3 separate regions of the Homo sapiens genome follow, and regions 2 and 3 are each reported to be linked to region 1. Evidence: microRNA targets listed by miRTarBase, many of them from high-throughput screens and not tested one by one. Region 1 holds a microRNA gene; each other region holds the end of a gene's coding sequence.

Region 1 (3,000 bases):
ATAAGCCACCACGCCTGGCCTATGCCAGATTTTGTACAAAGTAAAATCAATCCTTGTCCCCCACCACTGTGATACTAGGGTTTGTTTGATTTTAGTGACATCTGTATTAGGGTTGACACAGAATTAATAACTGAATCAATAAAGAGACCGGGAACAGGGCCACGCCTTACACAAGGTGACATGAAAAATGTTGAGGTGTAGCAGTTTATTCCCTTAGGTTAATCATGAACCTTTCTGTTAGGCCCCTTTGAAATTTAGTATCACTCTGTCCTAAATCACCAGTACCTTGCAAGTGTTGATTCTAGCCCATATAACTCACCTTTCTCAAAAATTCTGCTATGTTTGTTTTAGTAACCAAATACTGTATTTTATTTTCGTAAGATTTTCTTCCCAATCTAGATTATATATTTCAGAGAGAAAGCGTCCTATTTTATGTACATTTTGTATCCTTTTGGTGTCAAATATCATGCTATGACCATAACAGTAAGTGTAATACACATAATATCCTCCCCCCGCCCCCCCGCTTTTTTTTTTTTTTTTTTTTGGAGTTCCTACTGTGTTCCAGGTTCCATGGTAACATTTTCCTTGTTATCTGTAATCATCACAACAGTACTGGAGGGTAAATACGGTCATTCCCATTTTACAGATGAGGATACATTCAATGTGAGATGTTAAAGATGTTCTTCAGAATTTCCCAGGTAGCAGGCAGCTCATGGTATTCAAAAGGTAATGGTTAAGAGAAAGAATGGATAATGAATATCTTGTGTCTATTTTCTTGAGACAGACGAGACTGAGCAGCCTGAGAACATTTGGTGCTCAGAGGGAGGAAATGCTAAGAGGGGAAAACAAGTCTGAAAGGGAAAGAAGGATAGTTCAAAGACCAGTTTCCCCTGCTTCAGAATTCTGACTGGTGCCAGCTCTAACTGCGTATGTTTGCTTTACTTGGAAGATAGAATCATAGTGCCAGAATTCACGGAAGTCTGTTTTGGAAGATGCATTAGTCAGGGTATGCTAATTGCTGGAACAAACAATCCCCAAACTTCAGTAGCTTAACACTGCAGAGGGTTATTACCCTCCGGTGTCACAGAGCAACGTGGGTGGGCTCTGGTCCTAGCCTGGCTTCTTCCATGGCTCAGGTCTGCTATCCCCTAGGACCTTGGAGTTCACTAGATATTGGCATCAGGCTGATCAAAGAGGAAAAGGAGAGTGGTGCATAGACGATTACATGGGAAATTTTAAGGGCCAGGTCTGGACAAGGCAAGTATTACTTCTGCTCACATTTTATTGGCCAAATCCTAGTCATATGATCCCATGACTGCAAAGGAAGATGGGGAATTTCAGATTCCTAGGTGGTCACGGGCAGAAAGAGATGGGGATTGGTGAAAACATAGCCTGGCTTTAGCCACAGAGGGTTACACCAGAGGCCTGCAAGTTTGGTGACCACTAGTTTTCAGAGGTATTGGGTATTTGATAAAATCCAGTGTCTTCCAGAGGTTGAGCATGAGCCACATATAAATAACTTTCCCAGTGACGGGCCATCAGCAGTCCAATGAAGACATTGGGTCTTCATGTCTTCATTGGACTGCTGATGGCCTGTCATTGGGGAAGTTATTTACCTTCTCTGAGGAGAAAATAATAACTTGCATTTCAGAGTGGTTTGGGACACTAAAGGAAATCAGAAGATGGAACTGATTTGTTAACTAGAAATGGACATAAGTATTGGTTACAGGTTTAAAATGAAACTTGCAATGTTTGAGGAAGAAAGGGAAAATGTTAATGCAAAAACAAAAAAGGTAAAGAAATGGTGGGAAGTAGATTATTGGCACTTTTTCTTTGGAAACCCATTGCCATATTTCATGTAATTAAACTTCATTCCTTTTAATGAAACAATTCTTCTAAATAATACAGAGATTTCCCACCAATATAATATTTAACATTTATAATTTTCACCTTAAAGTTTGAACATTTTTAATTTTAAAACTGTTTGTTGCAGTTTAAATCTCCTTATGCCACAGAACTGTGGACTTTCTCTGGTTGCAAAATTCTTTACAGTGTCTTGAATTGAAAAGGGCTTAAGTAAAAAAAGCTGGGGGAAGTGGGGGCCTTTTACAAACAAATTACAACTCATTTGGTACAATAAGGATAATTCATTTTGTCTTGTTTTGCATGGCTGTATATTGTTTTGAATTCATTCTGCATTTCGGAAGCTTGCAGTATTTCTTTTCTGTAGGTTTCTTACTTGTAACTGCAGATTTCGCGGTTTCTTTTGTGTACCACTTGCCTCCCAGAATTTGGCCCAACAGTTTTGAGTAGCTGAACAATTTATCGGGGACAGATCAGCTGAAATGTGGCTCAACTTGAGTAAAGCAGAAGGAATGACATAAGGTTAGGTGACTGATGTGTGAGTTTTTGAATTTGATTTGGTTTTACATGGAAAGGTTGAAGCAATGATCCATGTATTCTAATAAAAATCATCAGTACAAATCAAATAAAATCTGGCTTAGTGGCTATTTTCCCACTGTATCACTCATGGCTAGCCTGTGCTGTTACAGACCACATTTGGCAGGCACGGCTTTTTCCTACAACAAATCTTAAAGTAACATTGCAATCTTTGCTGTGTTAAAAAGGCATCTTTTCTAATCAAACTGTCTGCTAATCTCATCAGATAAATCATTATTCTCTACTGACAGCTCCGGCTTTCCCGGAACCCCTTCCCTGCTTCTTGTTTTCTCTCAAGATGTCTGGTTATCGTCATTCTTCAGGTCTTTGCCTCTATCTCCTTTCACACTAATGACATATCTTCCATTCCTGAGGAAGAGTTACAGCTTTTTACCATTCCACTTACTGAATTGGTAAGACCAGTACCTCAGAGCAGCTCATCTCTTTCTGACCGGTATTCCACTAGTTATCAGATGGGCAAAAGGCAGGATGCATCCAAGTTGCAGACCTACTAGAACCAAAAATGCCTATTCCCAGGAATTTGATGTGATTAAACCTAAG
Region 2 (3,739 bases), not on the chromosome of region 1:
ACTACAGTCAACATAATGAATCCCTTAAGTGTGAACGTCTAAAGGCCCAGAAGATCAGAAGGCGCCCAGAATCTTGTCATGGCTTCCATCCTGAGGTAAGTCTGAGAACTGTTCCTGTTTCCTTTTCCCATCAGAATCACCACGAGAGTCTCACACTGGTCAAAGAACTACAGCTGAAAAGTTCACTCATGAGAAAATAATCCCTTTCATTCAGTAAACTGAATCTGCACCATCATCTAGGTCCCAGAAGACTTCGTTCTTACGTTAGAGAGGGGGAGAGAGGTCTGGGGAAAGTTGAAGGTGTCCTGGAGTCTATTTCCGTCTAACCAACCCCTGCCTTTCCCCATAGGAGAATGCAAGGGAGTGTGGGGGTGCGCCGAGTCTCCAAGCCCAGACAGTCCTCCTTCTGCTCCCTCTGCTTTTGATGCTCTTCTCAAGGTGACACTGACTGAGATGTTCTCTTACTGACTGAGATGTTCTCTTGGCATGCTAAATCATGGATAAACTGTGAACCAAAATATGGTGCAACATACGAGACATGAATATAGTCCAACCATCAGCATCTCATCATGATTTTAAACTGTGCGTGATATAAACTCTTAAAGATATGTTGACAAAAAGTTATCTATCATCTTTTTACTTTGCCAGTCATGCAAATGTGAGTTTGCCACATGATAATCACCCTTCATCAGAAATGGGACCGCAAGTGGTAGGCAGTGTCCCTTCTGCTTGAAACCTATTGAAACCAATTTAAAACTGTGTACTTTTTAAATAAAGTATATTAAAATCATAATCTCCGTGTTTGGATTTTATCATCACTTTATTGCTAAGAACACCAACTGAAAACAATGCATGGGGGAAAAGGTCCCCATTCCAGAAACCAGGAAATGATGGCTGTTGGCAGAGCCTTTGTTCTAAAGCAGATTCTAGGCACATATTTAACAACTGTTTTTAGATGCTTCACTCACTCTCAGTTATAAAAATATTTATAGAAGTATATCAAAATATCATCTACATGGGAAGAGTTTATTACATAGAACCGTGAATTTTGTTGAACTAAACTTCAATGAAAATCATAATTTGGATGCAAACACAAGCTTTCATCATATTCAAGTGGTGAATTATTTGGGAATAGAAATAAAGAAGTCATAAATCCTAGGAATTCGGTCTGAGGAGACTTGAAGGAGGAAAAGAACAATGATTACAAATTTGGCTTCTGGCTTTCCCCATAAACAAGATATGAAATTAGATCTCAAGTATGATGAGATGAAACTACCCAGACATGTAAGCAAGCATTTCTAAACGCTGGCTCTTGACCCAAAGAAAACAGATTTCACTGGATCATGGTTACTAAATAAAGTGAAATAATTTCCATGCCTAGGCAGAGTAGAGAATGCCTTACTTTATAGGACAGACGACATCTAAAAGTTATCCAGAGAATCCTACTTACTTACTTAAACTCTTTTAAAAAGGGGCACATTATCCTCTTGATATTTTAGAAAAACTGATGTCACTGTACTGCTTTATACTAAAATGATTCCACTACATTGTTTGTTGTTTGTTGTTATAACTTTTAAAATTAAATTACTATGCCTCCAGTGCTGTTTGTTTGTTCTCAACATCACAATACTGTAACAGGCAAACTTGCCAAACTTTCAACAGCCATGGAGCTATAGAATTGTGACAATTGATGTTACTCACTCTGTGCACTTGGTAAATGAATAAATTCATTTGTTGCTCATACAAATATAAAGATAGATATATTACATTTACACTGACACATTGATATCAGATAAGGAGCCACAATTTATTAAGCTGGAATGATTGATGATAAGACTCTAAACCCATAAAGTTACAAGTATAAAGACATTCTATTTACAAGTATAAAGACATTCTATTTATACCTAAGGTGATGACCAGAGGAAAATTGAGCTTAATACTGAGAGAGATGAATTTATCACAGATCTAGGTGATTTATAGGAAAATTATTTAGGTGATTTTAAAAGAGAGCAAGTTAGATGATTTATAAGAGAGAAATCATATTTTAATTAATTTTTAACAAAAATAACATCACATAACCTATGATTCTCCATTACAGTTCTTAAAAACTGGCAACAATAAGTCAAGCATATTATGTTATAATGCCCATAATTTAATGCAAATGATGCAAAATACATGTAATATAATTACGTATAATTCCACTCCCAGTCTCATTCTAAACGATGGAGTCATTTTTGTTAAACTGTTTATGGCATAAATATAGCATCCTTGAGTCACACTGCACCTCATGCCCTTGTCACGATTACATTCATGTAACTGACCCACCAGGCACCTCTGATTCGCTGTTCTCACAACAGCTTCAAGCAACTGGACCCTGTTTGTTTGTCTACTTTGAAATTGAATAATTTTCTCCAACTTAATGTGTCCTAAGCACAACTCACGATCCCCCTCCATTAAACTTTTTTCTTCCCACTGACGCAACTCCAACCCCAAACCTTGGGGCCACCCAATTTGCTCTTTCCCCCGCAACCCACCTTGCAGCAAGTCTCACGAGCTGTGCCCTTCAAACACCAAACCTGACCATCACTTTTCCCAGCCCCTCACTGCTGCCATCCTCTTCCCAGTCACCACCCCCGTCCCTGGTCTCTGAAGACCTATGTCCTCATTAGTCTCCTCTCTTCCACTGTCAGCGACCACCCAGTCCCACTCCACAGTCCGTTCTCCACACAACAACCAGAGCAGTTTTTCGGAAACAAATATCTGATCCTAGCCTTGCCCAGTACAATTAAAACAACATACACATCCCTTACTGTAGTCCACAGCAGGGGTTCTCTGAGTCTTCTGTGTGTTCGAATCACTCAGGGACCTTTCAAAAAATCTCTGGGGCAGGCCGGCCATGGTGGCTTATGCCTGTAATCCCAGCACTTTGGGAGGCTAAGGTGGGCGGATCACCTGAGATCAGGAGTTGGAGACTAGCCTGGCCAACGTGATGAAACCCTGTCTCTACTAAAAATACAAAAATTAGCCGGGCATGGTGGCAGGTGCCTGTAATCCCAGCTACTCGGAAGGCTGAGGCAGGAGAATCGCTTGAACCCGGGAGGAGGAGGTTGCAGTGAGCCAAGATCGCGCCACTGCACTCCAGCCTGGGCGACAGAGCGAGACTCCATCTCAAACAAACGAAAACTCTGGGGCAGAACCCAGGCATTTTAGTTTTTGTTAAAACTCCCCAGGTGATGTTAATATGAAGCCAGGTTGGCATCCGCTGAGCTGTGGGACCTACAGGGACTCGGCTAGACTCTGCCTCCCTTTCCCACACCATCCTGTGCTGCTCTGCCCCAGACCCGCTGTGCTCCATGGCTCTGCCTCCAAGCCTTTGAAAATGCCAGGCATGGTGCCCACTCAGGGCTTTTGTTTTTCATGTGCCTTCTGCCTGGAGGGCTCTGGACCCTGGTCTTCATGTGGCTGCTCCTTCCCAACATCCACGCTCCCTTCAAAAATTCCTTCCTCAGAGACCCCTGGTACAGCTGCTCTTCTCCCCTAGCCCCACTCCTCTGGTTTTACTTTTCCTTTACATCAGTATCTGGAATCATTTTATTTTCAGTTTCACCTACTGTATTCCAGCTCCATAGGTCAAGGACTCCTCTATCGTTCGTGACTTCATCTCCAGCTCCCAGAACAGTGCCTGGCCTATAATACAACTAAAACCACCAATAACAGTGACAAAGCTAGCACCTACTGT
Region 3 (3,739 bases), not on the chromosome of region 1:
TTAGTATTATTAGTAGTGTTATTCACATTTAGTGAAGCATTTCAAGGCAAAGATATATTCTTCATTTAAATGTGCATTATTTTATTTGTTTATTTATTTATTTATTTTTTGAGACAAGGTCTCACTCTGTTACCCAGGCTGGAGTGCAGTGGCTCACTCTTGGCTCACTGCAACCTCCTCCCTTTCGACTCAATTCTCCTGCCTCATCATCCTGAGTAGTGGAGACCACAGGCACACACTACCATGCCCGGCTATTATTTTTGTATTTTAGGTAGAGATGGGGTTTCGCCATGTTGCCCAGGCTGGTCTCAAACTCCTGACCTCAAGTAATCTGCCCACCCCAGCCTCCCAAAGTGCTGGAATTACAGGCGTTAGCCACTGCGCCTGGCCAAAATGTACATTGATTTAAAGTTTACTAAAGTAAATTTATCTTTTGAGGTCTTTTAAAAATTAGGCTGTTTCTCAAAGAACTTAAAATAGAGCTACCATTTGACCCAGTAATCCCATTACTGGGTATATACTCAAAGGAAAATAGATCATTATATCAAAAGACACATGCACTCGTGTGCTCACCACCACACTATTCACAATAGCAAATGCATGGGATCAACCTGGGTGCCCATAAATAGGTAGATTGCATAAATAAAATGCGGTACATATACACCACGGAATTATATGCAGCCATAAAAAACAATGGAATTATGTCCTTTGCAACAACATGGATGGAGTTGGAGGCCATAATCCTAAGTGAATTAATGTAGTAACAGAAAACCAAATACCAGATGTTCTCATTTACAAGCAGGGATTAAATAGCACAAATGGACATAAATGTAGAAACAATAGACACTGGAAACTACTAGATGGGGGAGGGAGGGAGGAGGGCACGGGTGAAAAAACTACCTATTGGGTACTAGAATCACTATCTGAGTGCAATATATTCATGTAACAAACCAGCACTTGTACCCCCGTAGCTAAAATAAAACTCGAGAAAAAAATTAAGGTTGTGTAAAATGAAAATAATAATATAATTAAGATCATTATATCTACTATCTATGCCTAGAAATTTTTTTGAGTAAATAACATCCTCAACTTTTTTGAGTAGATATCAGCCTCAGCATTGTATTAAACTTTCAACTAGAGAGACTTATTCCATTATCTTGGATATTTTGGATGTTTTTGCACTTAGATTAATGTGCTACATAGACCCAAACATTTAGCAATTACATCTAAATTAATGGAATTAGGTACTTGGACATCACATTTAAAGGGTGTTTCTTTAACTAGCTCAAGATTATATTTTTAGTTATAACCACAGCTGGGGCTAGAACCTTATATAATATGAGTCACTATCAGTGTTTTTTTCTCATCACCATGCTACACTTCACTGTCCATGCTTGTGCCATCATTCAGCAAGTATTTACTAATTGCCTGTTGTGTGTCAGGCTCCATGCTATTTCCAGATGATACCACAGCAAACAAGTTCAAATCTGAACTTTCAGGAAATTAGCAGTCAAGCTACCACACATCCTTGCCACTGTTCAAGTTTTTATATAACATAACTCTTATTTTTCAAATGACATCAAGCTTAAAAAACCCAACAACCTTCTCCTTTACACCAGGGAAATATGGTAGCAAGTGTTAGACATTTTGATGTAGAGAGTAACAGGCATGGTGAGATATTCACACCCACAGGAAAGAGCTGTAGCGGGCAAGGCCCTCTGAGAGCTCACTAGATATCACCAACAAAAGCCAGATTGATAGCAGAAGAGGTATAGAGATTTGTTTAAGGGGTGTATTTGGGAGCCTTCAGAATGAAGACCCAAAGATACAGGGGAAATTGTGCATTTTATGCCTAGGTTTAAGGAAGTATGGATAGAGGCTCAGAAATAGGATTGGACAAAAAGGGTATAAACTAATACTAATGAACTGAGTGGGGAAACACAGAAAGGCCTGTATGTCTAGATTATTCTTGGCTTCTTTGAGCAGCATTCTTCCTTCTGGGTGTGGGGCAGGGACCCCTCTGAAATGGGGGCCTTCTGACCTACAGTCAGTTTCTTTATGGCTAGTTTTTACACGGAAAAGCGGAGTGAAAATGAGAGTAATATTTTTAGCTTTTTTTTTTTTTTTTTTTTTTTTTTAAGATGGAGTCTTGCTCTGTCACCCAGGCTGGAGTGCACTGGTGTGATCTGGGCTCACTGCAAGCTCCGCCTCCTGGGTTCACGCCATTCTCCTACCTCAGTCTCCTGAGTAGCTGGGACTACAGGTGCGTGCCACCACGCCCGGCTAATTTTTTTTTTTTTTTTGTATTTTTAGTAGAGACGGGGTTTCACCACGTTAGCCAGGATGGTCTCAATCTCCTGACCTCGTGATCCACCCACCTCGGCCTCCCAAAGTTCTGGGATTACAGGCGTGAGCCAACGCGCCTGGCCATATTTTTAGGTTTTATTGCTGGCTTTGGGGAAAATATGGTTTAGTTTCTATGACACACCTTGGGGAAGAAGGATTCTAGTTTCTATAGCTAGCCTTGGGGGAGAATGAGACTGAGAGACAGGAGGGTAGGAGAAGATTAGAGAAAGACTTTTGCTCCTGAGGTCTTCATTTTGGGGTACTGTTTTCCAAGCTCCAAAAGAGCAAAATTACAGTTGATCATTTTGTAAACAGCTTTTCCAGGACAAACTCATCCACATCAACTGCCTAAGGGAGTTTATGCCACTTTCCCCTAAGTTCCCTACTGTGGTCCTACTAATCATAGGTATGGCACTCAAAAAGTGTAAGTCTGGCCTGATTCCACATGACACCATATCAGAGAGTTGAAGAAAGACAGTATGATCTCTCCTGAGGCTTTTGCTTCTCTGAGTTCAGTGTTCTCAATATATCGTCCATTTGCTTCACCAGATCCATTCTCCACTCTACTTTGTGCTGCTAAAAATCTACTCATATAAACCATGGACTGTATTAATAAGCTGTCTTGTTCTATGGCTTCGGGTTAGTTTTAGTGAATGGTAGGTCCCTGCAGATCACTGGAGAAGGAGGAAAATGAAATCAGAATATTTATTTATCTGGCTCCTTCCTTGGAGAATTTCTGTAATTTCTGAAATTTCGATTTCATTTCTTGACCTAGATGATCGCTTTTTCTCTAGGTCTTCATCCTCCTGTGAAGATCCTTCAGGTAATTCTACGTCTTTATCCTCCTGTGAAGATCCTTCAGGTAAGTCTAGGTCTTCATCCTGCTTTGAAGATCCTTCAGGTAAGCCTAGGTCTTCATTCTGCTTTGAAGATCCTTCAGGTAAGTCTAGGTCTTCATCCTGCTTTGAAGATCCTTCAGCTGAGTCTAGGCCTTCAGGTAAGTCTAGGTCTTCATCCTGCTTTGAAGATCCTTCAGCTGAGTCTAGGCCTTCGTCCTCCTCCTCTTGGACTGGATTGATGGAGTTCTCTCAGGACTGGTCATTCTCCAGTTGATTTGAATGTATTTTCTTAGCTTTCCTGTAGCAAAACGCTAATACTGTTGAATATTCTGACGTTTTCATCTTTTTCAAACTCGGTTCGGGGGCTAAGTCCCTGTTTGGTGTCTCCTGCATCTGTTAAGAAAACAGGGAGAGGCCAGAAAGACATTATTTTGGGTGAATAGGATAGAGACTGGATAGCAAGGGGGGCTTTATGAGAAGGAATGCAGGTGGAGGAAGGGGTGTGTGCCAGAGAAGAACAAGGTTGAATCATAGGGTAGGGATCTATGGGGAAG

The links. The annotated mature microRNA hsa-miR-4529-3p reads AUUGGACUGCUGAUGGCCCGU and lies in region 1 at 1,531-1,551, opposite strand. An mRNA with a match to its seed (bases 2 to 7 or 8) in the 3' UTR can be bound and repressed. Matches are read on the target gene's strand: a 7mer-m8 pairs with bases 2 to 8, a 7mer-A1 pairs with bases 2 to 7 and ends in A, and an 8mer does both.
Region 2: miRTarBase lists CACNA2D3 as a target of hsa-miR-4529-3p. Seed matches in the 3' UTR shown: 7mer-m8 at 547-553.
Region 3: miRTarBase lists SPANXN1 as a target of hsa-miR-4529-3p. Seed matches in the 3' UTR shown: 7mer-m8 at 3,411-3,417.

The regions. Positions count from the first base shown.
Region 1 is chr18:55,477,821-55,480,820 of GRCh38, reverse strand. It overlaps MIR4529 (microRNA 4529), which reads right to left and starts at 1,600; the gene lies at 1,523-1,600. The region is part of intron 3 of TCF4 (transcription factor 4); the gene reads left to right. The region is part of intron 1 of TCF4-AS1 (TCF4 antisense RNA 1); the gene reads right to left.
Region 2 is chr3:55,073,765-55,077,503 of GRCh38, forward strand. CACNA2D3 (calcium voltage-gated channel auxiliary subunit alpha2delta 3) reads left to right here. Exons shown (of 38, transcript NM_018398.3): 37 at 13-95; 38 at 350-793. The coding sequence ends at 442. Among named protein-coding and RNA genes, the nearest start is that of LINC02017, 100 kb to the right of the region's middle.
Region 3 is chrX:145,255,510-145,259,248 of GRCh38, reverse strand. SPANXN1 (SPANX family member N1) reads right to left here. Exons shown (of 2, transcript NM_001009614.3): 2 at 3,041-3,578. The coding sequence ends at 3,435. Among named protein-coding and RNA genes, the nearest start is that of SPANXN1, 9.9 kb to the right of the region's middle.